Homo sapiens: one gene and its partners. The protein of the gene in region 5 purifies or fractionates together with the protein of the main gene of each other region. This does not show direct contact. Each region holds a gene or a part of one and is shown on either strand. Other genes may lie near its edges.

The links.
Region 1: the proteins of MINDY2 (region 5) and XXYLT1 purify together in Homo sapiens (affinity purification with mass spectrometry; 2 studies listed by BioGRID and IntAct, with this or other methods). This does not show direct contact.
Region 2: the proteins of MINDY2 (region 5) and KLC1 purify together in Homo sapiens (affinity purification with western blotting, with the first as the bait; one study listed by BioGRID). This does not show direct contact.
Region 3: the proteins of MINDY2 (region 5) and ALG11 purify together in Homo sapiens (affinity purification with mass spectrometry; 2 studies listed by BioGRID and IntAct, with this or other methods). This does not show direct contact.
Region 4: the proteins of MINDY2 (region 5) and GNPAT purify together in Homo sapiens (affinity purification with mass spectrometry; 3 studies listed by BioGRID and IntAct, with this or other methods). This does not show direct contact.
Region 6: the proteins of MINDY2 (region 5) and HSDL1 purify together in Homo sapiens (affinity purification with mass spectrometry, with the first as the bait; one large-scale study listed by BioGRID). This does not show direct contact.
Region 7: the proteins of MINDY2 (region 5) and DNAJC1 purify together in Homo sapiens (affinity purification with mass spectrometry; 3 studies listed by BioGRID and IntAct, with this or other methods). This does not show direct contact.

Annotation. Positions count from the first base shown.
Region 1 is NC_000003.12:195,229,660-195,233,159, reverse strand, and holds part of XXYLT1 (xyloside xylosyltransferase 1), read left to right. Parts: intron 1-3,500. UniProt on the Homo sapiens protein: Alpha-1,3-xylosyltransferase, which elongates the O-linked xylose-glucose disaccharide attached to EGF-like repeats in the extracellular domain of target proteins by catalyzing the addition of the second xylose.
Region 2 is NC_000014.9:103,698,628-103,702,044, reverse strand, and holds the end of KLC1 (kinesin light chain 1), read right to left. Parts: exon of another isoform or gene 3,248-3,417; coding exon of another isoform or gene 3,028-3,247; intron 2,913-3,027; coding exon of another isoform or gene 2,866-2,912; intron 2,682-2,865; coding exon of another isoform or gene 2,469-2,681; intron 1,391-2,468; coding exon 1,319-1,390; coding exon of another isoform or gene 1,318-1,318; intron 845-1,317; coding exon of another isoform or gene 842-844; 3' UTR 501-841; downstream 1-500. Other genes in the region: DNA repair protein XRCC3, read left to right, coding at 2,469-2,681, 2,866-2,912, 3,028-3,247. UniProt on the Homo sapiens protein: Kinesin is a microtubule-associated force-producing protein that may play a role in organelle transport. The light chain may function in coupling of cargo to the heavy chain or in the modulation of its ATPase activity.
Region 3 is NC_000013.11:52,018,898-52,022,397, forward strand, and holds part of ALG11 (GDP-Man:Man(3)GlcNAc(2)-PP-Dol alpha-1,2-mannosyltransferase), read left to right. Parts: intron 1-15; coding exon 16-246; intron 247-3,500. UniProt on the Homo sapiens protein: GDP-Man:Man(3)GlcNAc(2)-PP-Dol alpha-1,2-mannosyltransferase that operates in the biosynthetic pathway of dolichol-linked oligosaccharides, the glycan precursors employed in protein asparagine (N)-glycosylation.
Region 4 is NC_000001.11:231,244,212-231,247,711, reverse strand, and holds part of GNPAT (dihydroxyacetone phosphate acyltransferase), read right to left. Parts: intron 1-3,500. UniProt on the Homo sapiens protein: Dihydroxyacetonephosphate acyltransferase catalyzing the first step in the biosynthesis of plasmalogens, a subset of phospholipids that differ from other glycerolipids by having an alkyl chain attached through a vinyl ether linkage at the sn-1 position of the glycerol backbone, and which unique physical properties have an impact on various aspects of cell signaling and membrane biology.
Region 5 is NC_000015.10:58,854,802-58,858,301, reverse strand, and holds part of MINDY2 (ubiquitin carboxyl-terminal hydrolase MINDY-2), read right to left. Parts: 3' UTR 1-3,500. UniProt on the Homo sapiens protein: Hydrolase that can remove 'Lys-48'-linked conjugated ubiquitin from proteins. Binds to polyubiquitin chains of different linkage types, including 'Lys-6', 'Lys-11', 'Lys-29', 'Lys-33', 'Lys-48' and 'Lys-63'.
Region 6 is NC_000016.10:84,128,178-84,131,677, reverse strand, and holds part of HSDL1 (inactive hydroxysteroid dehydrogenase-like protein 1), read left to right. Parts: intron 1-350; 5' UTR 351-356; coding exon 357-576; intron 577-1,246; coding exon 1,247-1,692; intron 1,693-1,902; coding exon 1,903-2,130; intron 2,131-3,500.
Region 7 is NC_000010.11:21,920,231-21,923,730, reverse strand, and holds part of DNAJC1 (dnaJ homolog subfamily C member 1 precursor), read left to right. Parts: intron 1-2,767; coding exon 2,768-2,933; intron 2,934-3,500. UniProt on the Homo sapiens protein: May modulate protein synthesis.

The DNA of each region.
Region 1 (3,500 bases), on a different chromosome or scaffold from region 5:
ATTTCAAGAAAAAAATATAAAAAGAGACAAGTTTGTTGTATAATGATAAAGGGGTCAATTCAGCATAAGGATATAACAGTTATATATGCATCCAACACTAGTGCACTCAGATATATAAAGCAAATATTATCAGAGTGAAAGATGGAGATAGACCCCAATACAATGATAGCTGGAGACCTCAACACCCCACTTTCAGCATTGGACAGATCATCCAGACAGAAAATCAACAAAGAAACATCAGACTTAATCTGCACCATAGACGAAATGGACCTAATAGATACTTACAGAACATTTCATTCCATAGTTGCAGAATACACATTCTTCTGCTCAGCACATGGATCATTCTCAAGGATAGACCATATGCTAGGTTGCAAAACAAATCTTAAAACATTCCAAAAAACTGAAATAATATCAAGTATCTTCTCTGACTACAATGGAATAAAACTAGAAATTAATAACAGGAATTTTGGAAACTATACAAACACATGGAAACTGAACAATATGCCTCTGAATGACCAGTTGGTCAATGAAGAGGTTAAGAAAGAAATTGAAAAATTTCTTGAAACAAATGATAATAGAAACACAACATACCAAAACCTATGAAATACAGCAAAGCAGTACTAAGAGAAGTTTATGGCTATAAATGCCTACATCAAAAAAGAAGAAAAAGTTCAAATAAACCACCTAATGATGCGTCTTAGAACTAGAAAAGCAACAGCAAACCAAACCCAAAGTTAGTGGAAGAAAAGAAGTAATAAAAATTAGAGCAGAAATACATGAAATTGAAACAGAGTAAACAATACAAAAGATCAATGAAATGAAAAGTTTTTTTTTGGTATTTTGAAAAGATAAAATTGACAAACCTTTAGCCAGACTAAGAAAAAAAAGAGAGAAGACCCAAATAAATAAAATCAGAGATGAAAAAGGAGATATTACAACTCATACTGCATAAATTCAAAGGATCATTAGTGGCTACTGTGAACAACTATATACCAATAAATTGGAAAACCTAGAAGAAATGGATAAGTTTCTAGACACATACAACCTACTAAGATAGAATCATGAAGAAATCCAAAATCTGAACAGACCAATAACAAGTAATTAGATCAAAGCCATAATAAGTCTCCTAGCAAAGAAAAGCCAAGGATGCAATGGCTTCTCTGCTAAGTTCTACCATTTAAAGAAGAAGTAATACCAACCCTACTCAAACTATTCTGAAAAATAGGGGAGGAGGGAATACTTCCAAACTCATTTTATGAGGCCAGAATTACCCTGATACCAAAAACCAGACAGACACATCAGTAAAAGAAAACTATAGGCTAGTATCCCTGATGAACACTGATGCAAAAATTCTCAACAAAATGCTAACAAACCAAAGTCAGCAGTACATTTAAAAAAAAAAAAAAATCATTCATCATGACCAAGTGGAATTTATCCCAAGGATACAAGAATGGTTCAACGTTCACAAACCAATCAGTGTGATACATCATATCAACTAAATGAAGGGCAAAAACCATATGATCATTTCAGTTGATGCTGAAAAAGCATTTGATAAAATTCAACATCACTTCATGATAAAAATCCTCAAAAAACTGAGTATAGAGGGAACATACCTCAATATAATAAAAGCCATATGCAACAGGCCCACAGCAAATAATCATACTGAATGGGGAAAAACTGAAAGCCTTTCCTCTAAGATCTGAAATAACAAGGATGCCCACTATGTTGAATAGCAACATAGTACTGGAAATCCTAGCTAGAGCAATCAGACAAGAGAACGACATAAAGCCTATCCAAATGGGAAAGGAAGAAGTCAAATTACACTTGTTTGCAGATGATATGACCTCCTATTTGGAAAAACCTAAAGACTCCACCAAAAAACAAAACAAAAAATGTATTGATTAGAACTAATCAATACATTTAGTAAAGTTGCAGAATACAAATTCAACATACAAAAATCATTAGCATTTCTATATGCCAACAGTGAACAATCTGAAAAAGAAATCAAGAAAGTAATTCCATTTATAATTGCTACAAATAAAATACCTAGGGATTAACCAAACAAGTGAAAGCTCTCTAGGATGAAAACAATAAAACACTGATGCAAGAAACTGAAGAGGACACCAAGAAATGGAAAGATAAGCCATATTCATGGATTGGAAGAACCAATATTGTTAAACTTTCCATACTACCCAAAGCAATCTACAGATTCAATGCAATCCCAATCAAAATACCAATGACATTCTTCACAGAAATAGGAAAAAAATCCTAAAATTTATATGGAACCACAAAAGACCCAGAATAGCCAAAGCTATCTTGAGCAGAAAGAATAAAACTGGAGGAATTACATGATGTGACTTCAAGTTATACTACAGAGTTATAGTAACCAAAACAGCATGGTTCTGGCATAAAAACAGACACGTAGACCAATGCAACAGAATAGAGAACCCAGGAATAAATCCATACATCTACAATGAACTCATATTTGACAATGGTTCCAAGAACATACACTGGGGAAAGGACAATCTCTTTAATAAATGAAGCTGGGAAAACTGGATAACCTTATGCAGAAGAATGCATCTAGACCTCTCTCTCTTGCCATATAAAAAAACAAAGTGGATTAAAGACTTAAATCTAAGACCACAAATTATGACACTACCAAAAGAAAACATTGGGGGAAACTCTCCAGGACATTGGACTTGGCAAAGATTTCTTGCGTGATACACCACAGGCATAGGCAATCAAAGTGAAAATGGACAAATGGGATCACATCCAGTTGAAAAGCTTCTGCACAGTGAAGGAAACAATCAGCAAAGTGAAGAGAGAGCCCAGAGAATGGGAGAAAATATTTGTAAACTGTCTATCTGACAAGGGATTAATAACCAGATTATATAAGGGGCTCAAACAACCCTGTAGGAAAAAAATTTAATAATCTAATTAAAAATTGGGCAAAATATCTGAATAGATGTTTCTCCAGAGAAGACATACAAATGGCAAACATGTATATGAAAAGGTGCTCAACATCATTGATCATCAGAAAAATGCAAATCAAACCTACAATGAGATATCATCTCACTCCAGTTCAAATGGTTTTTCTCCAAAAGACAGGCAGTAACAAATGCTGGTGAGGATGTAGAGAAAAGGGAACCTTCATATACTGTTGGTGTGAATTAGTACAATCACTATGGAGAACAGATTGGCGGTTCCTCAAAAAACTGAAAATAGAGCTAGCATATGATCCTGCAATCCCACTGCTAGATATATACCCAAAAGAAAGGAATTAAGTATATCGAAGACATATCTGCACCCCCATGTTTATTGCAGCACTATTCACAATAGCTGGGATTTGGAAGCAGCCTAAGGTTCCATCAGCTGATGAATGGAAAAAGAAAACAGTACATATACAAAATGGAGTACTATTCAGCCATAAATAAGAATGAGATCCTGTCATTTGCAACAACAGTGATGGAACCGGAGATCGTTTTGTTAAGTGGCATAAG
Region 2 (3,417 bases), on a different chromosome or scaffold from region 5:
GACGCAGAAGAAAAGATGGGACGTTTGGGAGTAAACCCCTGACCAAAGGCAAGTAAGGAAATTCCACCCTGTGCAGGGGGAGCGGCTGCCATGTCCAGCCCACCCTAGACATGGCTGTGGCCTGGCAGAGCAGCTCCTGGGTGGGCCTTCCCCCACTTCTCTTTTTTTTTTTTAAGACAGTCTCGCTCTGTCGCCCAGGCTGGAGTACAGTGGTGCAATCTCAGCTCACTGCAAGCTCCACCTCCCGGGTTCACGCCATTCTCTTGCCTTAGCCTCCAGAGTAGGTGGGACTACAGGCGCCCACCAACACGCCCAGCTAATTCTTTGTATCTTTAATAGAGACGGGGTTTCACCATGTTAGCCAGGATGGTCTCGATCTCCTGACCTGGTGATCCGCCCACCTCGGCCTCCCAAAGTGCTGGGATTACAGGCGTGAGCCACCGCGCCCGCCAGCCTTCCCCCACTTCTAAGAGGTCTTATAAAAACTTTCAAGTAAAGCATAAGGCATATAAACTTTTAATTTAAAAAAATGTACAATAAAATACGTTATCGCACACAACGTGAGGAAGTTACACATGGGAAGGGAGCCGTGGGCCCAGCTCATGCCCCAGGTCTCCTGGGAGAGACCACGCCGCACCAGGGCACCAGCTTAGGCCCAGCCCCAGCCCCAAGGTCACGCCAGCCGTGTGGTTATTAGTATCATGTCCTATGCACACAGACGCAGGAGAAATGAGTGAGCGCTGCGGCTCCCGGCCAGGGGCCCTCCCTGCCGCCCTGGCTGTCCCGGGCCAGCTCCGGGCCACACTCGGCAGTCCCATCCTGGAGCGGGGCCAGGTCGGGGTCACTGCAAGAGAAGATAGAAGGTCAGGGCTGGGCCGCCAAAACCTGACAGTGTTACTAAGTTCTGTTCTGGAAACAGCTCTCTGGGGAACCCCCACCCCAAGTCTGCCTAGAGAAGAGGGTGTTGCTGGTTGTGAGCCTCCCTGGGGCCGAGGGGTCATGGGGGACTGGTGCGTCTTTGGTCTCTGCTCCCTGGAGCACCAAAGGCCTGCGTCTGGCACGGGGGAAGCCAGGGGTGTGGACACAGAGCCTTCTCTTGCATAAGCAGAGCCTGGTGCCATTCCCACCCCCCCACTCTGTGGCCCTTGGGCTTGCATGAGGATGGGGACCCTGAGCCAAGCCCCTCTTGGAGGCCCAGCCTGGCAGCTAGCAGCAGTCACCACTTGCCCATCCCCAGCTCCCCCCAGTCCCTGCATGTGCAAAGTCCCTCCCTGGCCCAGCTGCCTGCTTCCTGGGGCTGCAGGCCGTGGGACTCACGTTAGCGGTGGCGTCTTCCAGGCCACTGCTGCTGCTGTCGTTTTCCACAAAAAGAGGCTCGGCCAGAGACGCCCTGGAGATGAAGCACAGACGAGTTTCACTCAGGGCGTGCAGGCGGCCCTCAGGCGTCTTCAGAGCTCCGGGCGTGACACCAGCGTGTGGCTGCAGACCTTGGACTTGAGGGACAGCCTAGGGGCCCCTTAGCAGCCTCCATCTGGCCAGAGCTGCTGGCAAGGCCCGTGGGGCCTGAACTACACTGCTTGGTGCCAGGAGCAGCTGTGTCACCCTCCCCCATCACCATGGCTCACCAAGCTGTGCGGTCAGAGGCCAGGCCAGCCATGCCAATGGCTCTGGCACCCACAGGCCACGGCAGCACCCAGAGGGAGGCCGAGGACACCTGCCTTCACTGGGGGGGTCCTCCCCTGGAAGCTCTCCTGGGAGCTGGTGGGCACAGGGCTGTTTCCACCCCTTGGCCAGGCCAGGCCAGCTCAGAGCACAGGGCTAAGGCCTGGATGCACGGGAGGCACTGGCCTTGAGGGTGTCTCAACCTACAGCCCCATCCTGACCCCCAGGTGGTCTCCCAGAGTGCCCCACGCCTTGGCAGAGGCAGGCCAGGCCTGACTCGCCTGAGTAACGCCTGAAGGGCATCAGGCCCCTGCCTTGCTGAGCGTCTGAAGAGGTCATGGCCACCACGGGCTGGCTTTGGTGGCACTGTGGCCAGGTTTGGGTGGTCTGAGTACCTGGTGCGGGGCCACTGAAGGAGGGGGCTGGTTGCTGCTGACCTGTGAGGGGGAGAGGGTGAAACCATGGCAGAAGGAGAGCAGACCCCCGCAAGGACTCAGGAGCCTGCGCAAAGGACACCTCTACAGAGGACGGTGTTGGCACAGCCAAGGGGTGACTGCCTGGGGGGGCCAGAGGAAGGACATGGGGCCAAGGGAACCAGTTGTGTGAGCCTGAAGCTTCTATAGTTGGGGCCTCTTTGAGAAAAATACAGAATTGGGCTCAGAGTATGGGGACTACAGAGTATGGGCACTGTGAGCCCCAGGTGGGTAGGAAGGTTTTCAGACGGTCGAGTGACAGTCCAAACGGGGTCTGGTCACCTGGGGCGGGGACTTGCTGACCAGCATAGACAATGACAGCTGTCCCCACAGGACACCTTGTTGGAGTGTGTGAATAAGAAGGTCCCCGTACTGCTGTCTCGGGGCATGGCTCGCCTGGTGGTCATCGACTCGGTGGCAGCCCCATTCCGCTGTGAATTTGACAGCCAGGCCTCCGCCCCCAGGGCCAGGCATCTGCAGTCCCTGGGGGCCACGCTGCGTGAGCTGAGCAGTGCCTTCCAGAGCCCTGTGCTGTGCATCAACCAGGTGAGCACCAAGGCAGGGTTGCACCCCTGAGCTCGTATTTTTAGCCAGGATGCGGAAGCAGAGCCGGTCTGGAGGTGGGGCGGGTGGCAGTGAGGTGGCCTCCGGCTCCTGCGGGTAGCAGCCTGTGCCTAACCATCGAGAAGACCCTCAGCCGTTGCAGCTGACCTGGACTGTGCTCTTCCAGGTGACAGAGGCCATGGAGGAGCAGGGCGCAGCACACGGGCCGCTGGGGTGAGTGCAGCCATGTGGTGTGTGCACCTCTGTGCAGGTGCCAGGGGCACAGCTGGGCCGAAGTGGGCGGGGCCACCAAGCCTGAGCGCCAGCTTGCCTGCTTCCTGTTTCTCAGGTTCTGGGACGAACGTGTTTCCCCAGCCCTTGGCATAACCTGGGCTAACCAGCTCCTGGTGAGACTGCTGGCTGACCGGCTCCGCGAGGAAGAGGCTGCCCTCGGCTGCCCAGCCCGGACCCTGCGGGTGCTCTCTGCCCCCCACCTGCCCCCCTCCTCCTGTTCCTACACGATCAGTGCCGAAGGGGTGCGAGGGACACCTGGGACCCAGTCCCACTGACACGGTGGCGGCTGCACAACAGCCCTGCCTGAGAAGCCCCGACACACGGGGCTCGGGCCTTTAAAACGCGTCTGCCTGGGCCGTGGCACAGCTGGGAGCCTGGTTCAGACACAGCTCTTCCAGGGCAGCGGCTCCACTTTCTCATCCGAAGATGGTGGCCACAGACTGAC
Region 3 (3,500 bases), on a different chromosome or scaffold from region 5:
GTCCTCTTATTTCAGGTTTTTTTATTCATTATTCTTCCCTGGGCTCATTGTATGTGGAACTTTATGTGTGTGTTTGGTCATTGTCCTTTGGGGAATCAGACTGCTGCTACAGAGAAAGAAAAAATTAGTGTCAACTAGCAAAAATGGGAAAAATCAAATGGTGATTGCATTTTTTCATCCATACTGCAATGCTGGTGGAGGAGGAGAAAGAGTTTTATGGTGTGCTTTAAGAGCCCTGCAGAAAAAGTAGGTATCCATCTTTCTTAGCTAATTTGCTATATTGTTCCATTTCTTAAAAATTATTATCCAGAAATTCATCTTTTTTTTTTTTTTTTTTTTTTTGAGACAGAGTCTTACTCTGTCACCCAGGCTGGAGTGCAGTGGCACGATGTCGGCTCACTGCAAGCTCCGCCTCCCAGGTTCATGCCATTCTCCTGCCTCGGCCTCCCGAGTAGCTGGGACTACAGGTGCCCGCCACCACGTCCGGCTAATTTTTTGTATTTTTAGTAGAGACAGGGTTTCACCATGTTAGCCAGGATGGTCTCGATCTGCTGACCTTGTGATCCGCCCACCTCGGCCTTCCAAAGTGTTGGTATTACAGGTGTGAGCCACCGTGCCCGGCCTCATCTTTCTAAAGTACCTAAAGTAAAAAATGAATTCCTTTTTAAACTGTTCTTCAATAAGAAAATATTTCTTTCATGTGCCCACATACCTTATATGATCTTATTTGACTTTAGTTACTATGATAAAGAAATAGACAAACCCAGGCATGGTGGCTCACACCAGTAATCCCAGTACTTTGTGAAGCCGTGGCAGGTGAATCACTTGAGCCCAAGAGTTTGAGACCAGCCTGGGCACCATGGCGAAACCCTGTCTCTACAAAAAATTATCTGGGCATGGTGATGCGCACCAGCTTCTCCAGAGGCTGAGGTGGAAAGATTGACTGAGCCTGGGAAGTCAAAGCTACAGTGAGCCATGATTGTGCACTGACTGCACTCCAGCCTGGGTGACAGAGTGAGAACCCGTCTCAAGGGAAAACAAAAAAGAAAGAAAGAAATGGACAGTGGATGGGGAAAACATCTGCCCTTTTATGGCATAAATTAATGGGAATAACTGGTCCCCTTGGGAGAGCATATACAGAAGAGATTAAGTAATTGACAGAAATATACCAAGTATGTCAGAGCACTTTAAGCCTGAATACTTTCAGGCAGTTGTGGCACACAGGAATAATCTTTATGAAAGTATCTATTTGACTCAAATTTTTATATCATTACCAGCTGGATAGTCTCAACTTACCATGTTAGAAGGAATATGGTGTTATACATCTTTTAATATTTGAGGCTTCGTCATCACCACCCCCCATACCCCCAAAATATTTATGATTCTCTTTTAGAAAGGAAAAAGCATAGTAGGTTCCATTATTTTATCATATGAGGAAAACTGTTACTCTTCATGGTTACCCTACTTCCTGGTACACACCCTTCATTCAGTGCCAAGGCCTTCACACAGAATTACCTCAGCTATACTTTTCTGTAATCCTGGCCCATCCTAGCTTCCAGGCCCTACCCCTGTATTTGCTCTGCCATCTTCTGTAACTGCCTAAATACAAAGAATTCTCATAATTCCCAACTCCGTGATGCTTTTCCTACTCTCGTTGATAATACTTTTTTCTTCTCTAACCAGATTATCTACCTCTTGATGGCGGTGGTAAAGTTTCATGATATCTGTACACATAGTCCCCAGCAGCCTCTATTACTCCTAACCCATCTACAAGGAGAAAAAAACCAAATCATTAATATGACTTGGAAGATACTTTTTCATCTTGCTCTGGCCACATTGCGTTTCTCATCCCTCCCCATTCCTTCACAGGTACTTTACTCTGACATGCAGAACAAGGAGCAGCTCCCTGAACACATCATGCTCTCTCTCGAGTCCTTCCCTTTCTATATAGTGTTCTTTTCTTCTGAAATAACCTTTTTCTCCCCAGTTAATTTCTACAAGCCTTTCCTAACTCAACACATACTACAGTGCACTTTTCATTCGACCTAGCAGTATTTATTGGGGACCTGCTATGTGTCAGGCACTGTTCTGGGGGTTGAGATTAAGAGAACAAGATCGATCAAGTCCTTCTCTCCTGGACGTTTGATTTTAGTTGAGAGAGACAAGATAATAAGCAAAGAAGAAAAATATCAAATAGTGAGACGTGCTATATAAAAAGTTAAAATAGGGTAATATAGGAGTGACTTGATACTTTAGATAGAGTGATCAGGGAAATATCTGATAACAATCAAAATCTGAATGACAAAAACAGCTGCATTCACTGCGTGATGATTGTATGTTAGGTATTGTTTGAAGTGCTTTACATGTGTTAGCTCACTTGATCCTCAGAACAGCCTTTTGCAGTTGTTACCATTATCCTCATTTGACAAAGAAGAAAACTGGGGCACTAGAGCCCATGTTCTGAACCACATGCTAAACTGCCTGCCTTATGAAAAGACAGTGAAAATGAGAAAAGAGAATTCAGAGTAGAGAGAACAACCACTGCAAGTCCCCTAAGGCTGGTTGGAGCTTGGCGTGTTAAAAAAAAAGAATGCCAGTTTGGCTGCACCCTGGAGGGCAAAGGAGAGCATGGGAAGGGAGGTGACAGAGGGAGGCAGGTTCCAGATCACACAGGACTTGAGTGAGCAGGGAAATTAGTTTAGATTTTATTCTAAGTGCTATAGTAAACCAGTTTTGGGGTTACTGTTCTGTGACATGGTTTAGGGGCTGCCATGTTTGGTCTCCATCATACTGTTGCAATTAGATGGCAGCTGGGGCTGGAGGCATCTGAAGCCTTTTTCACTCACATTCTGGTTCTTGGGCTGGGATAACTGGACCTGCTGGGGGCTGTCGGGCATCTCTCTCACTGAGGAGCTTCTTCATGTGACTTGGTTGTGCTTGCATACAACATAGCAATCTCGGGCTGGTTGGACTCCGTACATGACAGCTGTCTTCTCCTAGCATGAGCATTCCAGGAGACAGGAAGTAGGAGCTGCCAGTCCCTTAGAGTCTATGTTGGGAAACTGGCACAATGTCACTTTTGCCATATTCTGTTGGTCAAAATAGTCACAGAGCCAGGTGTTATTCCAGGGGAGGGGACTTAGATGCCACCTCTCAGTGAGAAAAGTATCAAAGAATTTGTGGCCCGTCCGGGCACAGTGGCTCACACCTGTAATCCCAGCACTTCAGGAGGCCAAGTCTGGCAGATCACTTGAGGCCAGGAGTTTGAGACCAGCCTGGTTAACATGGCAAAACCCCTTCTCTACTTAAAAAATACAAAAATTAGCTGGGCATGGTGGCACACATCTGTAATCCCAGCTTCTCAGGAGGCTGAGGCACGAAAATCACTTGAACCCGAGAGGTGGAGGCTACAATAAGCCAAGATCACGCCACTGTACTCCCGCCTGGGCGACAGACAGAGCGAGACCCTGTCTTAAAAAAAGAAAGAAAAAACAAATGGA
Region 4 (3,500 bases), on a different chromosome or scaffold from region 5:
TGTGCTTGACACTGTGGTATGTGCTGAGGATATAGTGGTGATCAAGAGAGAGACAGTCTCTTTTATGAAGAACAAGGTGGATGGTGGTACCAGTTATTGAGAGGGGCATTTACAAATGCTCCTTCCGCACTGTTCACCTGGGAAATATTTAGCCATCAACCAGAGCTTGTGTTTACCTCTTCTGTGTCCCATATTCTGGTTCTCCCCTTTACCTAGATTGAACAGGTCATCCTTTCCTTTCAGTCTTCACTGAACCCTCAATAATCGGATTTTCAAGATGGTCTCTAAAACACTTCATTAAACTCGTATTTGGTGCCTCCCTTACAAGACTGTGAACTTCTTATCTGGTAGATAAGGTGTCCTATACATTTCTGTACTCCCAGTTTCTAGTATGAACTCAAGCCACTGTAGAATGAAAAAATAAATTACAGAATGAAGTCACTTTTTGAACCCTATCGATGATGGCTCCTCAGTATTCACAGTATAAGGCTCAAATCTCCCCATTCTGGCCCTTACCCGATGTCGAATCCAGTGGTTTTTTTTTTTGAGATGGAGTCTCTCTCTGTTGCCCAGGCTGGAGTGCAGTGGCACGATCTCAGCTCACTGCAAGCTCCGCCTCCCGGGTTCACGCCATTCTGCCTCAGCCTGCCGAGCGGCTGGGACTACAGGCGCCCGCCACCATGCCCGGCTAATTTTTTGTATTTATAGTAGAGACGAGGTTTCACCGTGTTAGCCAGGATGGTCTGGATCTCCTGACCTCGTGATCCACCTGCCTAGGCCTCCCAAAGTGCTGGGATTACAGGCGTGAGCCAACGCGCCCGGCCGAATCCAGTGGTTTTAAACTCAGGCTGCACATTAAAATAACCTGGGGGCACTTCAAAATAAATACTGATATCCAGGTTCCACCTGTAGAGATTTCTGATTAATTTGGTCTGTGAGTGCTGCTCAGCTGTCCAAATTCTTTTTAAAAATACTCCAAGTGATTCCTATGTGCAGCTAGGGTTGAGTGTTCCTGCTCATTAATTGGCCTTCCCTATACCATGCTTGAGAAGTTTTTACTATCATTAAGTAAGTAAATTTACATGGCTACTCACTCAGGAACATAACACAAAGAAGAACCCAAGTAAGCCTTAGGGGAACTATCTCTCCCCCATCTTACTTAGTAGAGCAGGCCTCTCCCTACTGCTAGTGAAATAGGCCTTTCTTATACCTCCCTTTTAACTGCTCTGGAGGATCCACTCATTCAACAGATAGTGACTGAGAGCTCACAGTGTACCAGGCACTGTTTTACAGGCTGTGAATACAGCATGAACAAGGCAGGCAGGGACTGCACTGAGAGCCTACGTGTCCTTATGGAAAGACAGACAACAAATAAACAAGGTAAATTCATTTAGTGATACCACCAGTAGTATGTTGGTCAATGTTTAACCATTTAACGCTTGATATGGGAGAGCTCTGAGTTATAGCATTTGTCAATTTTTGTGGGATATACGCTCCCACCAGGGCAGATTTAAAGCTTCCAATCTGACCCCAGCAAACGCAAAGCTGGGGAGAAATGAGCAGTAGCACACAGTTATACAGGATACAGGATCTCCACCTTCCAGCACGATAGACAAATAATCTCAAGAGCACAGGTAATAGTACAATAATGAGAAAATGTTAAGTTATCAGTATTTATTACCTTTTTTAAAAACAGGATTTAATCGTAAATTTACATAATTTAATATTTAATTTTTTTTTTTGAGACAGAGTTTCACTCTTGTTGCCCAGGCTGGAGTGCAATGGCGCAATCTCGGCTCACTGCAACTTCCACCTCCCGGGTTCAAGCGATTCTCCTGCCTCAGCCTCCCGAGTAGCTGGGATTACAGGCATGTGCCACCATGCCCAGCTAATTTTGTGTTTTTAGTAGAGACGGGGTTTCTCGATGTTGGTCAGGCTGGTCGCGAGCTCCCGACCTCAGGTGATCCGCCTGCTTTGGCCTCCCAAAGTGCTGGGATTACAGGCGTAAGCCACAGCGCCCGGCTATTTAATTTTTAATAATGGCTGTGTTTTAAGAATGGGCTCACAAACTTCATGAAAATTTAACAATCAGCTCTTGCAAGCCAATAGAAGACTGCTGTAGCACACCACTGGAAAGAGAATATAAGGAAAATAAAGCTGCGGTCAGGGCATGGTGGCTCACTCTGTAATCCCAGTGATCTGGGAGGCCAAGGCAAGAGGATCAATCGTTTGAGACCAGAAGTTTGAGACCAGGTTGGCAACATAGTGAGGCCCTGTCTCTACACAAAATAAAAAAAAAAACCAGTCAGGCGTGGTGGTATGCGCCTACAGTCCTAGCTACTGGGAGGCTGAGGAGGGAGGATCACTTGAGCTCAAGAGTTGGAGGTCACAGTGAGCTATGACTATGCCACTGCACTCCACTCTAGGTGACAGAGCAAGATCCTGGCTCTAAAAATAATTAATTAAAAAGCCAAAAATTAACAACAACAAAAAAAGAAAATTAGGCAACTAATGAGGAAAATGAGGAATAGTGATTGGATAGCTGTTTTAGATTCAATGGTTGTGGAAGGCCTCTCTGAGGAAGTGATATTTGAGTTGGGACCTCAATAATACAAAGAGCCAGCAATAAAACTTCTGAGAAAACATAGCATGCCACACAGAAGGGACTATGAGCATTCGAGGGAAGAGCATTTTACTGTCTGAGAAACAGAAGGCCAGGGTGGCTAAAGCCCAGTGAACAAGAAGATTAGTAAAGTCAGAGCAATAGCAGTTAAGAGATCATGTACAGTCTTGTGGGACACTGTAGTAAGGCATCTGCATCTTTCACTTGGACTTTAACAGGAAGTCATCATCTGGATTATGGCACACCAGTGGTTACCCATCCTCAGTCTTCTTTTCATTCTAGGGTCTCACTGAATGATTTCAGGCTCACCGAATGCTATAGATACAACCTACATGCTGAAAAATCTATACATTTAGGCCAGACCCCCTCTCTTGCTCTGGCACCATATTTCTAACCCTACTTGGATCTCTTCCAAACACTATGGAATGTATCTGGCTCATAACATGATAATCCACAAGTTAAAAATCATTATATTTCTCTCTTACATCACAAACTGAACACACCCCAAACTGAATTCTATTACCCTGACCAAACCTGCTCCTCTCCCCATATTTCTTATCAATGAAAGGCATCATCATCTGCCCAGTTGCCAAATCATAGAAACCCAACAGTGAACTTCAGACTATGCTATTTTCCTTAGCCACCACATTCAAATGGTTCCAAAGGATGATGATTTACTGTCCTAAATATCACATAAATTCATCAATTTCCCTTCTTCCTGGGCTCACTGTTACTGCTTCATTACTTCTCTGGATTACTGCAATAGCATTCTAACTGATCTCCACTTTTATGCATCAGATTCCCTACCCAACCTGATTCTCTTCCTACAGTCTCTACTTAGGCAAAACAGGTTACCTATACAGATAATCACACCAGA
Region 5 (3,500 bases):
AATATGGGATAAGTAGTCAATATCAGAAATGTGAGACAATAAAAACAAGATATATTCCAAAGCCTAATCCTAAATTTAAATCTACACTTCATTCAACTCTGAACCTGACCTTGAAACATGGAAGAAGTTACTTTACCTAAGCACACTGCACCAGTGTAAAACCAATGCCAATTTTAGCTGCTTTATACTGCTTAATGTGTATATGTACACATGTATTCTTAAAATGGTGATTCTTAAATTGAAGTTCTGAATTCTTTTGAGAATCTAACAGAGGTCATGAAAACTTGCTTCAGAAACACACATATGTAAAGTACTTTTAAGTGTTGATCATGTACTATAAATCACAGCATTGTGGATGCAATGGGATTAGACATGAAGAAAAATTTTATATTTTTAATAAAGACTGGTTACTAACCTTAAGGAATATACTTAGACTCTGAAAGTAAAAGGAAAGTGCAATGACCATATTTGTTCATTCATCTGCCTATTTTCAAATCTAATGATGATTTGGTTGATGCAAATATGTCCCTAATCTAGGCTATAAATGATAAAAACAAAAATGTTTAAGTTCTAACTTTTGTTAGCAGTATACATCTAAGAATTTTCAAGTATTACAAAATACTTGGAAGGAAAGACTTTAATATACCACTTTCAAAATCCTATGTACCCAAACCAGCAATGAAGTGGTGGGATATATAACGTTACCTTGGGCAAAATTTAAGAAAATAAAGACACAATAGCTCTAATTTTTTTTTTTTTTTTTTTTTTGAGACGGAGTCTCGCTCTATTGCCCAGGCTTGCATGCAGTGGTGCTATCTCAGCTCACTGCAATCACTGCCTCCTGGGTTCAAGCGATTCTCCTGCCTCAGCCTCCCAAGTAGCTGGGATGACAGGTGCCCGCCACCATGCCTGGCTAATTATTGTATTTTTAGTAGAGACAGGGTTTTGCCATGTTGGCCAGGCTGGTCTCGAACTCCTGATCTCAGGTGATCCACCTGCCTCGGCCTCCCAAAGTACTGGGATTACAGGCATGATCTAAATTCTTTATACCCTTCAAGGGCAGGAAACCAGTATCTCTGAAAAGCTTGTTTGTTTTAATACAATTGAACATTTCATCTTTCCCCCCACAGTAATCAAAGCAAACATTTTATCATTATTATTCTTGGTATATCAAAGTAAATTCCAGGAATGTAAGAAAGTCTGACTTGGAAATATTACATAGAAAAAGGCTGAATTAACACATTACATTTTTTAGTTTTTCCTTGTAAGTATACATTGACATCTACTTATCTGATAGCAGCACTGCTGGTTTTGAGTGAGTTTTGTTTTGTTTTGTTTCCTTCCAGAGGGAATGCAGTATGGCAGCATTTTCTTTGGAACAAATTAAGAAGATAGTAACAAATAACAGAAGAAATACTTCTACACATATATTTTCCATGGGCAATAAACAGATAAGTATATAATTATGAAAAAATATGCCTCAACTATGCTTTTTAAAATTTCTCAAGGTATACTGGTTTGTTTTTCTTATTCAAATATAATGCACTATCACTACTATCTGTCCCGGGAAAAACAAACCCTGAGGTTTGAGTTACCTCCTTCAGCCAACAGAGTGATATCAAGAGTAAACTTGGATTGAGGTCAACCTGTTTGAGCCAATAGAGAGTTCTGTAGTATATCTGGTTATTTTACTAACGTATACATATTCTAGGTTATAATCAAGATACTCATTAAATATTTTCTATCAGAGTTTTATATCCCAAACAGGTTCTTTGATGATTTATCATGCTACCATAGGAAATTTGAAGAAATAACAAATTGTGTAACAGAAATAGACATGCAATATAAAGGACATAAAAGATACAGCTTGACCCTGGATTTTTCCCTTAGAATAATTCCTTCCATAAATAAGACTCTATTTTTACATACAGATTCATCCTATAACTGGTCTTGGATCATAAAGTTAATGACATAGTTGAAAAAATCCAGACCACACATTTTTGTGGTCTTTTGTCACCCCAGACCACACACAAAAAAAACACTCTCCAAGTGGATGCTCAGGTCAGATTATGATGCTCTTAAATAAATGTACTGAAGCTTAGAATGTAAAGCACACAACTATTTGCAGCAGCAATAGTCTTTCAAAATAACTAAAACAAACTTTTAAATATAAGGCATATAAAACAGACTATTAAGGATAGTTTTCCAAACTATATATAGAAACACAGGAAAATATGTGTGGCCTCATAATAAAGTTAAATAAATATTATTTCTGAGTTCTTATAAACACTATGAGGTTATAGTTTTATTTGGTTCCCATAAATTAAAAACTCTGATTGCTTTTACATAAATTCTTAGCTACTCTCAGACTTTTTTTTTTTTGAGACGGAGTCTCCCTCTGTCACCCAGGCTGGAGTGCAGCAGGGCGATCTCGGCTCACTGCAACCTCTGCCTGCCGGGTTCAAGCAATTCTCCTGCCTCAGCCCTGAGTAGCTGGGACTACAGGCACGCACCACCATGCCAGGCTGATTTTTTGTATTTTTAGTAGAGACAGGGTTTCACCATGCTGGCCAGGCTGGTCTCGAACTCCTGGCCTCAGATGATCCGCCCACCTTGGCCTCCCAAAATGTTGGGATTACAGGCGTGAGCCACTGCGCCCGGCCCTTTCAGATTTTTATTAATGTCTTTTTATAAGACACAGAGATTATCTCTAACTTCATTTCAGAAATGTGCTTTTTCATTGGTTTTAATAAGTACATTTAATTTTCTAGCAATGAACATGACTTAAAATTTAAGGTTCAAGGTAGTTCTAGAAAAAGGTAGACACTGAACTATCTGCTTTTCTACATCCCCATATTTACAAAGCCTAGCATCCACTGTGCTTTCCTCCATACACTCAATCACATTGTCAATAAATAGTAACTGTGGTCCAGGTTACCTATGATAAAGACTCCAAAATTCCTCAAAATTTTACAACACTACAAAGTCATTAATATCTGATATTGATAGGTTATAAGTATTAGTGTTATGTAACTTTTTGCTATTGGAAAAGAAATACAAATCTTTATTTTTGCTATCTAAATTAAAACTAAGCTCCATGATCAAGATAATACCTAAAATGTACATTCCTAAATAAAGGTAAAGCTGTTTAAGGGCTGAACTAGTCCAATATACAATTAAGGGTTATTTATTCCTATTCTTTTGTTTTTGTTTTTTTGAATCCCTATGTTAAACCCGTGGTTTCTCATGAATTAGATCATAATTTAACATTGTAAAATTTCAGAAACTATTGTGCTAATATTTAGATTTCAGGAAGGAATCAGACTAAATCAATTACCTCCATTCATTGTTAGAACAGAAGATATAATAGCTTACTAACTGATATGAGTTATGAATGTCACTATGACACAAAATTTGCTGTGATTTGCTAATCTGGCTACAAGTGCAGTATTTTTCATGAATGTCAACACACAGCATTTCCAACTTGTAACATGAAACTC
Region 6 (3,500 bases), on a different chromosome or scaffold from region 5:
CCGGGCGTGGTGGCATGTGCCTGTAGTCCCAGCTACTTGGGAGGCTGAGGCAGGAGAATCGCTTGAACCCGGGAGGTGGAGGTTGCAGTGAGCCAAAATCGCACCACTGCACTCCAGCCTGGGCGACAGGGTGAGACTCTGTCTGATAGATAGATAGATAGATAGATAGATAGATAGATAGATAGATAGATAGACTGAAACTGTGAGCCACGTACATTTGAAAAGTTAGTGTTATTTGAACGTACAATTGACAAGATCTGATGCCCTCAGCTGGATGTCTTCACTCAGACTGTGTATGTTCCTTTAATTTATTAATCAAAGAGGCTCTCTCTCTTTCCCTCTCCCTGCAGGTTGCCATGGCTGCTGTTGACAGTTTCTACCTCTTGTACAGGGAAATCGCCAGGTCTTGCAATTGCTATATGGAAGCTCTAGCTTTGGTTGGAGCCTGGTATACGGCCAGAAAAAGCATCACTGTCATCTGTGACTTTTACAGCCTGATCAGGCTGCATTTTATCCCCCGCCTGGGGAGCAGAGCAGACTTGATCAAGCAGTATGGAAGATGGGCCGTTGTCAGCGGTAACCTACTTTATAATCAAAATAATCTTTTCTGTGAAGTCGGATGCATTATTCAAGGAGCTATTGAATTTAATGTGGTGTTTTTATGGGAACATGCTGATAAAAAAATAAAACTTATGGCTCCTGCCGTGATTATGTTCACATTTCATTTTCTTACTGCTCTCATCTTAGGAAGAACTGGCCTCATGATTGGTATCCTTCCTATTCTGCTCTCTCCTGTTCCCAGTCCTCCTCCAGACCCACTTCCTACTATGTGCTTTTCCTTTTTGTTCTCTGTTTTAAAATTGTCTTGAAAGTGTTGCCACTTTCAGAAATGCTTCACCTATTTTGAATTTCATTTTAATTTATGAAGATTTCCCAGAAAAGCACCTCCTGCCACTCATTCAAGCCAGATAGTAGTTTGAAAACAAATTCCTACTGTGTCTCCTAACCAATATGGTGAATGTAAAATAACTCCCTGTCCGTGTGTCAGGATGTCTGGGAGAGTGTATAGCATGCGCCCTTCACATTCCTCATTCAGCAACAGTGTCCTTGACTTGTAGATACTAGAACCGACTTGATTTCTAGTGTGAATTTTTCTCTGACTAAACCTGACAGGGGGTACTTTGGGTCCATTTTAAGGGTCACACCGTGAAATACACATGCTCACTTTTCCTGACTTGCATCCTAGGTGCAACAGATGGGATTGGAAAAGCCTACGCTGAAGAGTTAGCAAGCCGAGGTCTCAATATAATCCTGATTAGTCGGAACGAGGAGAAGTTGCAGGTTGTTGCTAAAGACATAGCCGACACGTACAAAGTGGAAACTGATATTATAGTTGCGGACTTCAGCAGCGGTCGTGAGATCTACCTTCCAATTCGAGAAGCCCTGAAGGACAAAGACGTTGGCATCTTGGTAAATAACGTGGGTGTGTTTTATCCCTACCCGCAGTATTTCACTCAGCTGTCCGAGGACAAGCTCTGGGACATCATAAATGTGAACATTGCCGCCGCTAGTTTGATGGTCCATGTTGTGTTACCGGGAATGGTGGAGAGAAAGAAAGGTGCCATCGTCACGATCTCTTCTGGCTCCTGCTGCAAACCCACTCCTCAGCTGGCTGCATTTTCTGCTTCTAAGGTCAGATGTTACTTACTGGAAGATGAAATCCTAATGCCACAGAACATTTATTAACAGTTGTTTGGTCTGATTTGTTGAACTCTTTGTCAGCAACTCACATATGCTTATCCTGTATTTTTTCCTGAATTGATAATAAGCAAGTCTTTTTTTCTCCTGAATTTTCAAGTTCACCCAGAATTAAAAGTCTTTTCCTCCCCTCTGTCTCAACAGGCTTATTTAGACCACTTCAGCAGAGCCTTGCAATATGAATATGCCTCTAAAGGAATCTTTGTACAGAGTCTAATCCCTTTCTATGTAGCCACCAGCATGACAGCACCCAGCAACTTTCTGCACAGGTGCTCGTGGTTGGTGCCTTCGCCAAAAGTCTATGCACATCATGCTGTTTCTACTCTTGGGATTTCCAAAAGGACCACAGGATATTGGTCCCATTCTATTCAGGTAGGAGTGTGCTTCAGGTCTCATAATTAGATTAATGCATCATGAACCTATCTCAGTGATACAGAGAAATCTGATTAAAGCCTAAGATGAGAATTGTAAATTCTGACTCTTAAGCCTGACACTTAATAATTTTGGTTAAGACACTAAATTTTCTTTCTTTTTTTTTTTGAGATGGAGTCTGGCTCTGTCACCCAGGCTGGAGTGCAGTGGTGCGATCTCAGCTCACTGCAAGCTCCGCCTCCCGGGTTCATGCCATTCTCCTGCCTCAGCTTCCCGAGTAGCTGGGACTACAGGCACCTGCCACCACGCCTGGCTAATTTTTGTATTTTTAGTAGAGACGGGGTTTCACCGTGTTAGCCAGGATGGTCTTGATCTCCGGCCTCATGATCTGCCTGCCTCAGCCTCCCAAAGTGCTGAGATTACAGGCGTGAGCCACCGTGCCTGACCAAAGACACTAAATTTTCTTTTGTGAAATTATTACCTTAAGAATTTTCAAAAGTTCAATCTATGTGGCACCTTAAAGTGAAATATACTACTTTGGCTGGGGTGTGGTGGCTCACATCTGTAATCCCAGCACTTTGGGAAGCTGAGGTGGGTGGATCACCTAAGGTCAGGAGTTCGAGACCAACCTGGCCAATATGGTGAAACCCTGTCTGTACTAAAAATACAAAAATTAGCTAGGCTTAGTGGTGTGTGCCTGTAGTCCCAGCTACTTGGGAGGCTGAGGCAGGAGAATCGCTTGAACCCTGGAGGCGGAGGTTGCAGTGAGCCAAGATCACGCTACTGCACTCCAGCCTAGGCGACAGAGCAAGGCTCTGTTTCCAAAAAAAAAAAAAGAAATATGCTGCTGTAAGTGGATGTTAGGACTATAAAAATACTAAGTATTTACATGGGAATTTCAAAGTAAAAGATTCTAGTACTGCTTGAGGGTTACCTCTCAGTGAAAAATATAATCCAAAAAAACCACAAAACCACAAGATAGGGCTATATTTCATGCAACCATTTTATCAAATAATATCTCTGTATAGTCTTAGACTAATTTTTTCAAGAAGCATAGAATTTTTATTTTAAGCTTATTGTTTAGGCATGACAAAGGATTGGTACCTTTTAGTACTGTAGAAAGTAACTTTCTTAGATATTTGAAATTGTGATCGTAAGTATTAATTTGAGAATGCATAATTATCTATTACAATATATTTCAGTTCCTTTATCTGGTGTAGTAAAGAGATGTGCCCTAGTTTAGAATTTTTTTTTTTTTGAGATGGAATTCCGCTCTTGTTGCCCAGGCTGGAGTGTAATGGTGCGATCTTGGCTCACTGCAACCTCCACCTCTCGGGTTCAAGTGATGCTCCTGCCTCAGCCTCCGGAGT
Region 7 (3,500 bases), on a different chromosome or scaffold from region 5:
GTATATTTTAAGAAAATCAAGTGAAATAAACACACATTAGGCCATATGTTGGATATGTGGAATTGATTAATGTTTTCATTTCCAAGAAAATGCCATTATAATTTCCTATGATTTTTAGCATTAGTGATATTTTTTATCATAGAGATTTCTTTCTTTATATCTTACAACACATACATTTATACATTCTTAATCTGGCTTTAATAAATAGTTGAGAACAGTTTGTATGAATCCCAAATACAGAGCATTTTAACAGTGTTATATGTTTAAATATAGAAAAGCCTAATACAGTGATGTTTTAAATTTTATGTGTTGTCAACACAGTATTTCTTCTTAAATAACTTATGAAAAGTGTCTGTGTGTACTTTGGTAAGAAATGTATTTTCAATGTTTCATCAAGAAAGCAGTGATTTATCTTTTAACAGCATATATTCTAAAAAATGAACTATAATGGAAGCTATCTTTCCTTAAAATGGCCAGTCGTGTGAGCTATAATATAGTTCATTGATAGTAAAATCAATAGAGCATTGATTCTAAGCTTAATCCTTAGAGACTGTTGTTTAGAGTGACAGACATAGGCTAGTAAATATCTAGTTCTGTTTAATGTGTTCAGTGCATGAGATTTTGCTATCTTGAATTTGTACACCAAATACAATTTGTACGTAGGGTAGAAAATAGTAGCTATTAACAGACACATAGCACTTTCAGTTATGATGGTGATAAAATATTTGATAAGAGATTCTTAGCTATGAGTTCAGCTGTTTTCTCTTCTGCTATAGTTTAGTTATACCCAAAGCAAATTTAATACTTAAGAGTGCTATTAGGGAATTGTCTCCATTTTCTTAGATGTTCTTTATCAATAACTATACTTTTTACCTGAAGTTATTTCATGGGAGAGGTTTGCTGAAAATGATGATTTCTATATTCACCTTTTTTCTCCCTCAACAAATCTGAAGTAGAATGTGGATTGAGAATAGATTCAGGACTTAAGGTTGATTGGACTTCATTTGAATGTTGTAATCTTATGTTAGAGCACTTGAAACCTTTTTACCTATACATTTTCTCATTTAAAATGAATCAGTATTTATAAGATAGATTTAAACATAAATTTTTGATAACATGAATGATAGTTTTTATGAAGTCATATTATTATATCTTGATGTTAATATTCAAGAATTTCGATAAACATTGAAAAAGAATAGCACCAAATTTTTCTGGTGTAGCTACTGCCAAACCATACATTACTTTGTAGACTCTTGTATATTACACAATTTGCTTTTTAAGAGTTTAGTACTAATTAATGTCCTTTGCTTTCAACATTGGTTATTCCAATTTGATGATATTGTTATTAATAACCTAAGTTGATCAGAAGGTCAGGTTTTCTAGATTTGCTAATAAAATATATTTTACATTTATATCTGATGTTTTTCTACTGAAAAAAGAAGTTGCCTGTAATAAATCCTCTGCTTTATTTTTTTAGCATATCTCCAAGGTATCAATTTAATAACTATCAAAGTAGCTACTGCAGTTGTTGCATTTAAATTGATTTACATGTCAAGACTGGCAGTTTAGCAGCTGCGCTATTATTCCTAGATCGGTCAATTTACTTGAGAAAAACCTACTACCGAGTTCTACTGACCTGCCTGACAATATAGGCCCTATTTCTATTCCTGTAATTAGGCCTGCGACTAACTCAGAATATTTTTAATTAAAATATTTTGGTCAATGTGTTGCACCAAATTAGGCCTTTCAGTGAAGATTTAATTCTGGAAATAGTGTGATTAGAATATTTAATGAGTTGTGTTCAATTAACAGGTTGTGTGTGTTGAACACACAGTGTTTGTATGTGACCATTTTGAGTTTTACAGTCATAAATGTTACTCCTTATTTTTAACCTCAAAGATATTTGTTCAATGATTGTCTGACAAGTAAATTTAAATTGAGTTGAAAATTTATTTTAAAGTAACTTTTTTATCCTGATAGTACCAAGAAAGCTGATTTAAAATGCATCAGCTTTTTAAAGGACTAGGAAAGCTTTTACTTGTTAATGTTCTTCTCTTCCAGCAAAAGCCAAAAATGAGGAAATTGCCACTTAATTGTTTACAAATAAACAGTTTTATTGAGAAATCCAACATAAACACTGGTTGTTACCACATCTCTTTTTAATTTGGGAGTTTTTTATTTTCTAAAGGAATATAGCAATACAAAATTAAAAGACACTCAATTTTATAGGCTTTTACCTCATTAAAAAGCTTTGATAAAATCATGTGTATAAATACTTCAGCCTTGAGCCACCGTAGTTTAGGGGTAGACATAAAAGCACTGACTAGAAAATTTATTCTGAATTTGATTCAATTAATATGTAATTCACGGTAACAAACAGCTCTTATCTTGATCTTTCTCCTATTGAGATCCTCCTTTTTGTTGCTGACTTCAATGGTAGAGTCTTTACTATAGACTAGTAGACAGGTAGACTACACGTAGCTCCTTTAGTTTAGATGTCACTCCAGGAGTCACATCTTTGGGTGCTGTAAAAACATGAGATCTGGTATCCACAGTATATTACTGGACACTTTTTTGAAGGGTGTCAGTGACTAGAGCTATCTACAGTGCTTTGAATTTACTCGATATTATAATGCTGGGAACGTACATAAACATTATCTATTTTGGATAATTTGTTTTCTTTTTCCTTTTTGTAATATAGGCACAAATAGTTTTTTTTGTTTTTATTTTAAACTCCCCGTGAAAAACTGTTATATTTGTACTGTAGGTATGATGATATTCTGATCAATGGACTTCCAGATTGGCGACAGCCTGTATTCTACTACAGGCGGGTGAGAAAAATGAGCAATGCTGAGCTGGCATTACTCTTGTTCATTATTCTCACAGTGGGTCATTATGCTGTGGTTTGGTCAATCTACCTGGAAAAACAACTGGTAAGTGTTAGTAATAAATCAAATGAACTAGCCTCCTTAATTTTATATGGAATTTTGGACATTTATTTTTCAACTGATGAAAATTTCTGTTTCTCTCTGTATACTTCTCATTCTAATAGTTTTATACTCAATGTTTGACATATTTCTAAGTCAAGAAGAACCCATGAAATAAGAAAATATTCTTCTTTTAAAAAATGTGGCACTTAAGTTTGTTATAAAACTTTGTGAAAGCCCAAATATCTAGCTGGGAATTAGAAGGTAGAGCCATGTTTTCATTATCACCTTCCAAATAGAAATATTTTTTATTTAAGACTGATTTTAGATTTTTTTGTGTCACAGGCCTTTATATAATGAATGTTTACTTTTAAAATGTTTTAGGTAAATAAATAAAATTGGAAATGAATATAATATTCTAACTTCAATTGGTTAAAAAAATTATTACACTTTTCTTGGTTTAATATGCTACTCTATAGTTTATTCTTTGGGTTTTTATTTATATGTTAAAGATAATCAAACATATTTATCAGTATTCATGAATTAGCATCTGTTTACTCATTCCTTTTGAAG